Linked DNA regions of Homo sapiens. The protein of the gene in region 1 purifies or fractionates together with the protein of each later gene. This does not show direct contact. Each region holds a gene or a part of one and is shown in the gene's direction. Other genes may lie near its edges.

Region 1 (3,500 bases):
TCTGAGGAAAGGAAGGCCATCGGGACACCCAGTCATGGCTGCCCTGGAGGCTTCCTTTGCATCTTAAAATGGAGATGCCCCACAGATGTGGCTGCCTCAGGCCAGCACCTCAGGGAGGGCATAGGGAAACTGATTTTGGCATCTGATGTGCTGGGCAACCCTGGGCAAGTCACACAGATTCCTGAGGGTTAAGACCTGGACCCAGATGGCAAAGAGACCAGAGGCTCCAGAGCCATGCAGGAACAATAACACCAAATGAATGGACAATGCTTGTAACTCTTTCAAATGCTTTCTAGGCTCCCCTCAATCCCCTTGATACATAATCACATTACCTCTGTTTTACAAATGCACGAAACTGAGACACAGGCAGAATGATTTACCCAAGCTCACACAGTTAGTGACAGGTGACAGGTTCAGGATTAGAACTCATGTCTTGTTAAGCTGAAAATGTCCTTTACTCTTTTAATTAATATTGTGGACCCTGGGGTTATTGTGTCCACTTCAAATTCTTGCCAGTCTTTTCCAGGACCCTTTGCTCTCCATGCCTACTCAGCTCTTGGATTCTCTTCCTTCTTCCTGCCTATTTTCTCCCCGCTTGCTTGCTTCCTCCTGCAGTATGGGAATATGAACTGTATTTGTGCAGAAAGGATGGCACCATAGTCATGCTTAGTGTTTCTAGCTGTGCAAGACCTCCCAATATCCTTAAGCCTTGCTCTGCAGACCAGTTTCACTGGCCTTTGTCAATCCTGCTGGACAAAGTTCACATGACTGCACTCTTTGCTGAGCCAAGCTGATGGGGAGCTTAGCCAAGATGCAAGAACCACTTCCTTCCCTCTCTTACTGCTTCATAACAGGAGAGTCCTGGATTCCCCAGAGCTTGAGACCAGAGGGTTTGCAGTCTCACAAGTGATGCTCCCAAGAGTAACAGGACTGTAGGTGAAGGTGGAAGCAAAAGCCAGAGCCGCCTCCCTCCAACACACCCAACACACAAGCAGGAGGGACCCGTGAGAAAGATGGAGAAAACGTATTTGTTTGAGTGGTTTGTAGTGTTGGATGAGGGAGAGAAGTGCTTGGCTCAATCTGAGGAGGTGCTAAGATATAAATTTGGGCACAGTTAGTCCATAGAAAGTATTCAGTTGAGGCTCCATCTGTCCATCATGTCCAGAAAGATTCCAAGTGGTGATGCTAAGATAACATTTGGTTGATGGTAATGGAGACACTGAGATGTGATTGGTCCATGCTGTCTGAGGGGACCATTCTAAGTAGTCAGATGGAGATGTGATTGGCTCACAAAGTTCTGGAGCAGTCTGAATTATTCCTCTTACTCAGGGGTAAAGACACACAGGCTAGCACCCTGCAGCCCCAGCTGTGCCCCTTCTTGCTTCTGGGTTGTCAGGGAAGACCAGGTTTTTGCTGTTTTGCAGCCCATGTCAAAGACCTGACCCTGAATTTTGCTGGACTCAAACCTCTCACTCCTCCCTCTGCTCTCTTCAGTTGGTTTCATTGCCAGCCCCTCTCCATGTCAAGAGCTCTACCCATAGGGATGTTCCCACACAGATGGGCGTCTGGCTGGAGTCCATGTCTGACACCTCCCCGGTGGAGAAGGGCCTGGCAGTCTCTCTCCTCCAGCTCCCCAGTCCTAAGGGCTCCCACACTCCTTGCCTGATACTCCATGCTCTCCCTTCTCTCCTCAGTCTTGTGATTAACATCCTTGCCATTCTCTGCTAGGCCAAGAGGTGTGTTGGGAGTGTGTCTCTAGCCCTGGGCAGATGTAGCACTGACAGGAAACACCTGTCTATAGGGTCGATCTAAGGGAGACCATCTTGGCATCTTCTGCAGCCTTCAGAGCAGAGGTTCTTCACTGAGGAAAGAAGGTAGTCAGGGAAGAGAGGCTTTGTGGTTAGGGCTTTGCTTGCTCTTTCAGTAGCTCAGGAAGAAGCTGCTGGGCCCCATCCAACAGGATTGCTGTGGGATACCACCCCCCACTGTCCAAGACCTTGCTCAATGCTTTTGCAAAGTATAGCGTGCGGGGGCACGTGTGGACTCTTTTGTAGATTTCTAAGGGCAACCCTCTTCTCAACAATAAGAACCCTGTTTCTCAAGGCTGGTTGGGGGAGGCATAAGAAGACAATTCAGGGAGGCTACTCTGGTCACTCAAAGACCCCAGCTCCCCTGATGAGGATCTGCAGTAACAGGCATTTCTCCAGATGTGCTCCTGGATCTAGCTCAACCCCAGGGAATAGTTGGTGGTCACAAAGCATTTGGCCAGGGTCCATCCCCCAGGTGTGGCTGAGTCAGCTTGGGAGGGTGGGGGTGAATATGGGGAGCCTGAGCTGAATCTGGGAGAGACTGGTTTGGAAATCCTTCGGGACTGAAGAGGGAGAAGGGCAGGGCAGGGAGTATCCCCACAGCAACCTGGCTGGGAAGGTTTCAATAGCTGCCTCCTGAGCAACCACAGTGACCCAACCACAAGGCCCCCTCTTCCCGGCCACCTCCTTTTCTTCCTGGTAGGGTGTGTTGTTGCCAAGACAATGGGGTCCATGGCTCCTCTCTCCTGCCCCACCTTGAGGCCAGCCAGGCCAAGGCAGGGCAGGGATTCCATGGAGGGGGGCTGGGGTGCAGCTGTCTGCTGGTGTCTGGGTGGGGGCCAGAGAAGTGAGCACAGTCGCAGCTGGTGCCATCCTCCAGCTGCACCTTATCTGTCCCTGGCAGTGGGAGCAGCTGATGTGGCCAGAATGCTGAGCAGCAGCAAGGGGAGGGGGCTGGCAGATGGTCACCCAGTCTGCCCTATGCCACCCCCTCCTCCGCTGAGACCTAGACCCTTTGCCTAGCGGAGAGAGAAGCAGGAATTCATTTCTGGGGCCTGGAAGAGAAGGAAGAGGAGGACAGAGTGGAAATGCTGGGGTGGACATGTGGTGTGACTCATAATCTCTCTCAGGAGGGTGAAATTGGGGGACAGGAATCCCTGGGAGGGGTCCACAGGAGTCCTTCTCAGGACCCTGGATTGGAGACCAGAATCTCCCAGGGAAGAGGTGGAGTGAATGGGGATGAGCACAGAAGCCTCCCCTGCAATCCACTGCTAGGTTCTGAAGGGGCCCGGGCATCCCCTGGAGCACCTAGGGAAGTAAGATGCTGCAATGAGAGGTGGCTGTGGGCGCCTGATCCTGGGACCCAAAGTGGGGAGAGAGAAGTCATCTTAAAGCAGGAGAGCCAGGGATGGCAGTGCCCAGCAAGAGCCAGGACTAGCATGGAGTTTATTCATCCCTAGGGCTCACCCCTCATCCCCACACCCCATGCTGCCCCATAGAAGCTCAGACCAGAAGTCCCTTGGGAGGGCCTGACCTTACTACTGGGGTCTGCACCCTCCAGCTAGGCAGGGAGTGGAGGGGCTGCTGAAGGGAAAGGCTGCCCAGACTGCCATGCAGACAGGGGAAGGGGAATCTTGGGCAGCCCCACCCAGAGGCCTGGTGGTCTTCATGGGTGGGAAGGGGGAACATGCA
Region 2 (3,500 bases), on another chromosome or scaffold:
TTCATAAAAGGTAGGAAATGATTTTCAAGCACCGCAAGTACTATAGTGATAGCAGTTTGTATGTATGATTATATATACACATATGTATATATATGCACACATGTACATATATGTACGCATATCTTTAAAGTGTTATGATTTTGTAAGAACTTTTGGATGCGTGCATTTTTTAGTTTATTTTTTGATAGTTTATATTCTTTTAGTTACCAATAATGCCTTTTTTGGTTATTTCTGTCCTTAATTAGTGAAGAATATTTTGTCGAACTTATGATATCCATGATCCAAAGGTAAGAAATTTACTCTTTAAAGATTTTTCTGTGTCACAAAGTATTTTCAATCAAAATTCAGCTTTTATTTAGTTTTAATAATTTCCATTGCCATCACTTCCTATTGATGCCTACAAACAACTGTAGTTTTTATTTTGAAATATGATTAATTTTATTACAGATAAGGAAAACTTTTTTGTGCGTGACAGGGTCTCACTCTCTTGCCCAAGCTAGAGTGCAGTGATGCAGTCATAGCTCACTGCAGCCTCCACCTCTTGGGCTCGAGGGATCCTCCCACCTCAGCCTCTTGAGTAGCTGAGACTATAGATGTGCACCACTGCACCTGGCTAATTATTTTTGTTTTTTGTTTTTTGTTTTTTTTGATAGAGATAGGGTTTCACCATGTTAGTTATGTTTGTCTTGAACTTCTGGGCTCAAGTGATCTGCCTGTCTTCGCCTCCCAAAGTGCTGAGATTACGGGCTTGAGCCACCACGGCCAGCCAACTTTTTAAAAAATTGTTAAAATATCTTTGTTAATCTCCTCCTACCTTGTTTGTGTATTTAGTTTTATATTTGAGAGGCTGGTAGTAAAAGTGACTGAGGACTTTTGGTAGCTGCACTGCCTATTAAACAAGCTATGTGTATTCAGCAAAACCCAGATTAGCACTTTGCTAATGCATCTAAAAGGGTTGTGAAAAAGTAACTTTGCAGTGTCATTAGCAAGGATGGGACAGAAAGGAGAATGCCTGCCACCTAGGAGTTGCTCAGTGATTATTTGCTTCAGATCAGAATCTTCAGTATTGATACTGTTGAAGCTAGAGGATCAAAGGACCTTTCAGAATTCTAAACATGGAAATTTCTGATTCTTTTTCTGCCTACCATTGGGAGGAGAAGTATTGCCAAGGATGTATTGAAGAGTACTGAACTTAACACATGCTTTATTTTGTGTTTAGTTCAACCTATAGTCTTTTGATCAAGGGTTTAGCCATATATGTTAGATATGAGTTTGTATGCGTTATTTAGGTTGTATATTTAATAATGTTTTGTTGATCCATGTATTTTATCTAGACTACATCATAGTTATTTTTCTCCCTTCTCCACTGCTAGAGTTCAGCAAGACCAGCAGATTGGAAGTATCAAAGTGGATTATCATCCTCATGGCTTTCTTTAGAGTGTACAGTTCACATTAATATTCACATCCCACTTTCTGCTACTTCTGTCAGCTATACTCTGGAGAAAAATACAAAGGTACCAGGGTAAAATGAATTTTCTTCAGTGATTGCTGAGTGAACAATCTGCTTTTATTCTGCTTACATGTGTCATTCATTTTACAATCCTCAAAAATTACATTCTGCTTACAATGTTGTTATGTGAGTAACTTATTACCGCAGCCAAATTAGAAATTTTTAGAAATTTTTAGAAGTGGAACAATGTCATAATACTAGTATATTCAGTTTAATAATAACTAATAATTTAGTTGTTAGACTAAATATACTAGTACTTATTATGTGCTGATTAAGTATTATTATGTGCTTTGTCATTAAACTAAATATAACAGTATTCATTAATTAACATGTAAAATGTAATTAATGTAAGAAGCTATACTGTTTGGACTTTTAGCTTTCTCTTAGTACTTAGGTTTTTTTGTCTTCCTTTTTCCAGTTCTTTTTTGTATTTCTATACCATTCTTTTATTTTTATCTTATTTTTCTTCATTTTTCCCATTGAAGATGTCAAATAGAGCTTTTTTTTTTTATTTTTTAGACTTATTTGATGCTTTTTTCTCACTTTTTTTTTTAAGGTAGTGGGCATTAAATTTTATTTAACTGATCATGTACTTAATAACCTCCTGAGTCTGTGACATAAATGTTATTCTGGGATAAAGATCAGAAAATAACTATTATTAAATATAATAAGGTATCAAGAATGGGGGTATACTTTTTTTTAATTTGTGAAACTAGATTTAAATGCTGCAGTAATGAGATTTAGGGATTTTAATATTTCAATTTATTAGGTGGAACAAAGTAGATTATAGGAAGTTTAATTGAGATGGCATTGTATCTGAAAGATTTCCATGTTGTGTTTCTGTTAAGAATGGACTTACACGCTGGGCCAAGGAAATAGAAAATGGTGTTTATTTGATTAATGGACAAGTTAAAGATGAAGATTGTGACCTATTAGAAGGACAGGTAAGTTAAGAGAAAATCATCTTATTAAATTGTTAGTGCTTAAGGAAAAATAAAACATGACTTATTTTTAGTCCTTGCCTACAAGAAAACTGATTTCATCTACCTCTCATTTCTGATTTCTGATTTAAAGTAAAAGGCAAATGTTTTTCTTAGAAAAACAACCTCATTAAAAAGTAGGCAGAGGATATGAACAGACACTTTTCAAAAGAAGACATACATGCAGCCAAGAATCGTATGAAAAAAAACTCAGCATTACTATCGGTAGAGAAACACAAATGAAAACCACAATGAGATACCATCTCACACCAGTCAGAATCGCTGTTATTAAAAAGTCAAAAAATAACAGATGCTGGCAAGGCTGCAGAGAAAAAGGAATGCTTATAAACCGTTGGTGGGAGTATAAATAAGTTCAACCATTGTGGAAGGCAGTGTGTTGATTCCTCAAAGACCTAAAAACAGAGATACCATTTGACCCAGCAATCCTATTACTGGCTATACCCTCAAAGGAATATAAATTGTTTTATTGTAAAGACACATGCATGCATTATGTTCATTGCAGCACTATTCACAATAGCAAAGACATGGAATCAACCTAAATGCCCATCAATGACAGACTAGATAATGAAAATGTGGTACATATACACCATGGAATACTGTGCAGCCATTAAAACAGAACGAGATCATGTCCTTTGCAGGAACATGGATGGAGCTGGAGGCCTTTATCCTTAGAAAACGAATGCAGGGGCCAGGCATGGTGGCTCATGTCTGTAATCCCAGCACTTTGGGGGGCCGAGGTGGGTGGGTCACTTGAGGTCAGGAGTTTGAGACCAGCCTGGTCAACATGGTGAAACCCTGTGTCTACTAAAAATACAAAAGTTAGCTGGGCATTGGTGGCAGGTGCCTGTAATTGCAGCTACTTGGGAGGCAGGGGCCAGGCGTGGTGGCTCATGCCTGTAATCCCAGCACTTTGAGGGGCCAAGGTGGGCAGATCACTTGAGGTCAGGAGTTCAAGACCAGCCTGGTCAGCATGGTGAAACCCTGTCTCT

What was found. Proteins that work in one complex are often made in the same cells at the same time.
Region 2: the proteins of ASIC1 (region 1) and ODR4 purify together in Homo sapiens (affinity purification with mass spectrometry; one large-scale study listed by BioGRID and IntAct). This does not show direct contact.

Annotation. Positions count from the first base shown.
Region 1 is NC_000012.12:50,060,596-50,064,095, forward strand, and holds part of ASIC1 (acid-sensing ion channel 1), read left to right. Parts: intron 1-3,500. UniProt on the Homo sapiens protein: Forms voltage-independent, pH-gated trimeric sodium channels that act as postsynaptic excitatory receptors in the nervous system, playing a crucial role in regulating synaptic plasticity, learning, and memory.
Region 2 is NC_000001.11:186,389,338-186,392,837, forward strand, and holds part of ODR4 (protein odr-4 homolog), read left to right. Parts: intron 1-250; coding exon 251-287; intron 288-1,373; coding exon 1,374-1,514; intron 1,515-2,358; coding exon 2,359-2,454; intron 2,455-3,500. UniProt on the Homo sapiens protein: May play a role in the trafficking of a subset of G-protein coupled receptors.